2 separate regions of the Homo sapiens genome follow, and region 1 is linked to region 2. Evidence: fine-mapped expression QTL. Tissue or cell type: whole blood. Region 2 holds a variant in brackets; the other region holds the start of a gene. All regions are shown on one strand. Distances are between the middles of the regions.

Region 1 (2,500 bases), 20 kb after region 2:
AGGAATGGAGGGAGGGAGGAAAATAAGGATATCTGGGATGGGATTGGGCACCAAAATAAAATCTGAGTAATTGGAAAAGGGGTGTCAGCAACAAAAGGAGAGTGGATGGGGTGGCTACTCACCAGACGGAGTGATGTCTGTGTGACACAGAGGCCCTGTAGGAGGTTGAGGGACTAGTTTCTTTTTCCTTTTTTTTTTTTTGTCTGAGGCAGAGTCTCACTCTGTCGCCCAGGCTGGAGTGTAGTGGTGTGATCTCAGCTCACTGCAACCTCTGCCTCCCAGGTTCAAGTGATTCTCCTGCCTCAGCCTCCGTAGTAGCTGGGACTACAAGTGCCCGCCACCACACCAGGCTAATCTTTGTATTTTTAGTAGAGAGGGGTTTCGCCATGTTGGTCAGGCTGGTCTTGAACTCCTGTCCTCAGGTGATCCACCCGCCTCGGCCTCCCAAAGTGCTGGGCCTCGGCTCCCACAGGCATGAGCCGCTGCGCCCAACAGCGAGTTCTTTTCAAAACCCTTTGTGGCCAGCCCCATCTCATTGGTAACCCAGGAATCTGAGTTCCCAGCTCCTATCTCCTCTGGGAAATGAGAATCTTATCCCTCCCTCCTCCTGTCTCAGTAGGCAGAAATTTGGACATCCATTGCCCACCTACCGAAGAAGTCTGAACGCAGACCCCTCTGGCCTGGGCAACCAAGAGTTCAGGCCCTTGAACTCCACCTTTCCAGGGAACAATGATCGTAGAGTTTCTCCTCTCACGAGTTCAGGAATCTGGGTCCCCATTTCCCTCTTCTCTCAGGAGCTAAGAGCCCTGTTCCCAGCCCCCTTTTCCCAGGGAATCAGGAGTCCTGGCTTCCATCCCCCTCCCATATAAGAATCTGGGAGTCCTCCCTGTCTCCTGACCTCTTCCTGCCTCAAGAACCAGAGATACCTGTCCCCACCTCCTTCCTCTTTCGGGAATCTGTGTTCTCTTGCTTTAGGACCCAGGGGTCTGGGCCCCAGCCCTGTTCTTTATTTGAACCTAGAATCCCAAACCTGCTGCCTGGTCCCCCTGCAGGGTGTCTGGGTCTCCATTGCCTCTCTCTCTGCCCCCAACCCCAGCCAGGAACCCAGGGAGAAGAAAGGGGTGACTCACAGAGGGTCAGCAGCTGGAGGATCAGCACCAGGGCCATGGTGGGCAGATACCCGCTAGAGCTGGAGCCAGGGCTTGGTCGCACCCTCTCCCCTCCCAGGAAATGAGGCAACATCAGAAAACCAGACCCAGATCCTCATTTACGGAAGAGAGTATCGAGGTGGGGGCCTGTGGGTGACTGTGTCATAGCCCTATGGCACTGTGGAAAAATTAGCAGGGGGTTCAGTCATAACCTGTGGTGTTCATTTATTTAACTCTAGAAACAAATACTAGTCAGGAGGTGGAGGCAGGAGGATCGCTTGAGCCCAAGAGTTCAAGAGCAGCCTGGGCAACAGAGCGAGACCCTGTCTAAAAAATAAATAAATAAATTGTGCCACTGCACTCCAGCCTGGGTGATAGAGTGAGACCATGTCTTTAAATATAGATAGACAGATAGAAAGATATCTGTCTGTTTTAAAAATAAGAACCTATTATGTGCCAGACTCTTGCTGTCATTGATTGACAGATAGATAAAAATTTGCACCTATTATGTGCCAGGCCCTTGCTGTGATTGAAAGATAGATAGATGGATGGATGGATAGATAGATAGATAGATAGATAGATAGATAGATAAAAATTAGCACCTGTTAAGTGCCAGGCCCTTGCTGTGATTGATTGATGGATAGATAAAAATTAACACCAATTATGTGCCAGGCCCTTGCTGTGATTAATTGATCGATTGATAGATTGGTTGACAGAGAAAAATTAGCACCTATTATGTGCCAGGCTCTTGGTGTGATACTGTGTTAGATAGATAGATAGATAAAAATTAGCCCCTCTAGGCCGGGCGCGGTTGTTCACGCCTGTAATCCCAGCACTTTGGGAGGCCAAGGCGGGTGGATCACCTGAGGTCGGGAAGTTCGAGACCAGCCTGACCAACATGGAGAAACCCCCGTCTCTCCTAAAAAAGAAAAATTAGCCGGCTGTGGAGGCGCGCGCCTGTAATCCCAGCTATTCAGGAGGCTGAGGCAGGAGAATCGCTTGAACTCGGGAGTCGGAGGTTGCTGTGAGCCGAGATCGCGCCATTGCACTCCAGCCTGGGCGACAGAGCTAGACTCAATCTCAGAAGAAAAAAAAAAAAATTAGAACCTATTACGTGCCAGACCCTCGCTGTGCCATGTTGGCAGGCACAGAGGGAACTCAGACTCCGTTACTGCTCTCAAGCAGCAGCTACCAGTCCGACTGAAAGACCAAGACCAGGTCAGTTTCTTTTTTTTTGAGACGGAGTCTCGCTCTGTCGCCCAGGCTGGAGTGCAGTGGTGTGATCTCGGCTCACTGCAAGCTCCGCCTCCCGGGTTCACGCCATTCTCCTGCCTTAGCCTCCCCAGTAGCTG
Region 2 (2,756 bases):
GGCAGGAGAATCGCTTGAACCCAGGAGGCGGAGGTTGCAGTGAGCTGAGATTAGGCCACTGTACTCCAGCCTGGGTGACGAAGCAAGACTCCATCTCCGAAAAAAAAAAAAAAAAAAGAAATTAGAATGGAGGTTACCAGGGGCTGGGAGGACCGCGGCAAATACAGAGTTATTGGTTAGAGGGTGTAGCGTTCATATTGGGAATTGTGATTGTTAATTTGATTTATCAGCTAGACCAGGCCACAGGATGCTGGGATATCTGGTTAAACATTATTTCTGGGCGTGTCTGTGAGGGTGTTTTTAGAAAGATCAGCATTTGAATCTAATGCTGAGTCGGGCAGGTTGGCCTTCCTAATGGAGGTGGGTATTCTGCTGAGGGCCAGGATGGGAGAAAAAGGTGGCAGAGCCACCACAGTGGCTCACGCCTGTAATCCCAGCACTTTGGGAGGCCAAGGCAGAAGGGCTGCTTGAGGCCAGGAGTTTGAGACCAGCCTGAGTAACATAGTGAGATCCCGTCTCTACAAAAAATTTAAAAATTACACGGGGCACTGTGGCTCACGCCTGTAATCCCAGCACTTTGGGAGGCTGAGGCTGAGGCGGGCAGATCACCTGAGGTGATCACCTGAGGGAGCTCAAGACCAGCCTGGCCAACATGATGAAACCCCGTCTCTACTAAAAAGTACAAAAAATCAGCCGGGTGTGTGGTGGGCACCTGTAATCTCAGCTACCCAGGAGGCTGAGGCAGGAGAATTGCTTGAGCCCAGGAGGTGGAGGCTGCAGTGAGCTGTGGTCATACCACTGCACTCCAGCCTGGGTACAGAGTGAGACTTTGTCTCAAAAAAAGGAAAAGGAGGGAAGGAAGGAAGGAAGGAAGGAAGGAAGGGAAAGAGAGAGAGGAAGGAAGGAATGAAGGAGAAAGAGAAAGAAAGGAAGGAAGGAAGGAAGGAAGGAAGGAAGGAAGGAAGGAAGGAAGAAAGCAAGCAAGCAAGCAAGCAAGCAAGCAAGCAAGCAAGCAAGCAAGCAAGCAGGCAAGCAAGCGGGGGCTCACGCCTGTAATCCCAGCACTTTGGGAGGCCGAGGCGGGCAGATCAAGAAGTCAGGAGATGGAGACCATCCTGGCTAACACAGTGAAACCTACGAAAAAAGCCGGGCATGGTGGCGGGCGCCTGTAGTCCCAGCTACTCGGGAGGCTGAGGCAGGAGAATGGCGTGAACCCGGGAGGCGGAGCTTGCAGTGAGCAGAGATCGCACCACTGCACTCCAGCCTGGGCGACAGAGCGAGACTCCATCTCAAAAAAAAAAAAAAGAAAGAGAGAGAGAGGAAGG[AAGGG/A]AGGAAGGAAGGAAGGAAGGAAGGAAGGAAGGAAGGAAGGAAGGAAGGGAAGGAGAAAAAGAAAGAAAGGAAGGAAGGAAGGAAGAAAGAAAGAGGTTTTAGTGTAGATAGTGGTGATGGTTACACAGCGGCCTCAATTTACTTTATAGTTATCTATTTGACACTAAATTTTTATTTATGGTATTAAGGTTTCTGGGCCAGGCACAGTGGCTCACATCTGTAATCCCAGCACTTTGAGAGACTGAGGTGGGCAGATCACCTGAGGTCGGGAGTTCGAGACCAGCCTGGCCAACATGGTGAAACACCGTCTCTACTAAAAATACAAAAATTAACCAGGCATGGTGGCGCACCCCTGTAATCCAGTTACTCAGGAGGCTGAAGCAGGAGAATCGCTTGAACCCGGGAGGCAGAGGTTGTGGTGAGCCGAGATCACGCCATTGCACTACAGCCTGGGCAACAAGAGCAAAACCCTGTCTCAAAAAAATAAAATAAAATAAAATAAAATAAGGTTTCTATTCTGAATACTTTTACTTACACACAAAAAGTCAGAGTTGATCCTGAGAAAAGGGGTAAGCCAATGAAGCCAGGTGGTGGAGGCATTCAGCAAAACTCACGAAGTTGAAACTACAGGAGTTGAAGTTTGCAGAGCACTCGTTTCCAGGGAATGTCTGCAGTGCACTCAGCAGGACGTCTCACTCCTCCCGTGTGCTCAGTAAGCCAAAGTTGATGTTATTATTTCCATCCCCAGCCCAACTATCCCACCAGTTCCATGATTTTCTGCAGTCCCAGTGGATAGCCCTGTGAGACTTACTGAAACAGAGGAGGGAAAGCAGCTTAGGGATCATGATGGCTCCTTAGCCCTCCCAGAGTCCGTCTTGGGTTCTGCAGTCCACAGATGGGAGAAGAGCTGGAGTCGTCGCTGCCTCTCTCCCACCCCAGAGTGTGGGCAGTAACAGCCTTTCCTAGCCTTTCAGTTTCCCCTCCCATATCCACATTCAGGAAACATGTTGATGTTGCTGATTGCAACATGCTCCTTACACACACCAGTGTTCGAGCACTTGACTCACAGGAAATGCTCCTCTGTCTCAGGCAGATTTCAGGCATCAAACAGGTAACCCCGAAAATGCTTCAGACTTGGCCCTGAAGGGTTCGTATTGAAGAGATGAAAGCACTTCACTCTTTTTTTTTTTTTTGAGATGGTGTCTGGTTCTGTTACCTGGGCTGGAGTCCAGTGGCACGATCTCAGGTCATTGCAACTTCAGCCTCCTGGGTTCAAGCAATTCTCCGGCCTCAGCCTCCCAAGTAGCTGGGATTATAGGCGCATGCCACCATGCCCGGCTAATGTTTGTATTTTTAGTTAAGATGAGGTTTCACAAGTTAGCTGGGCTAGTCTTGAACTCCTCGCCTCAAGTGATCCACCTGCCTCG

Evidence for each region. PIP is the estimated chance that this variant, and not a neighbour inherited with it, causes the effect.
Region 1: it holds the start of OSCAR, and the variant in region 2 is fine-mapped to the expression of OSCAR in whole blood (INTERVAL, PIP 0.94).

Annotation. Positions count from the first base shown.
Region 1 is chr19:54,099,626-54,102,125 of GRCh38, forward strand. OSCAR (osteoclast associated Ig-like receptor) reads right to left here and starts at 1,178. Exons shown (of 5, transcript NM_133169.6): 1 at 1,131-1,178; 2 at 123-155. The coding sequence starts at 1,167.
Region 2 is chr19:54,079,167-54,081,922 of GRCh38, forward strand. TARM1 (T cell-interacting, activating receptor on myeloid cells 1) reads right to left here and starts at 2,199. Exons shown (of 5, transcript NM_001135686.3): 1 at 2,141-2,199. The coding sequence starts at 2,174. The variant AAGGG/A (reference allele first, on the strand shown) is at 1,326.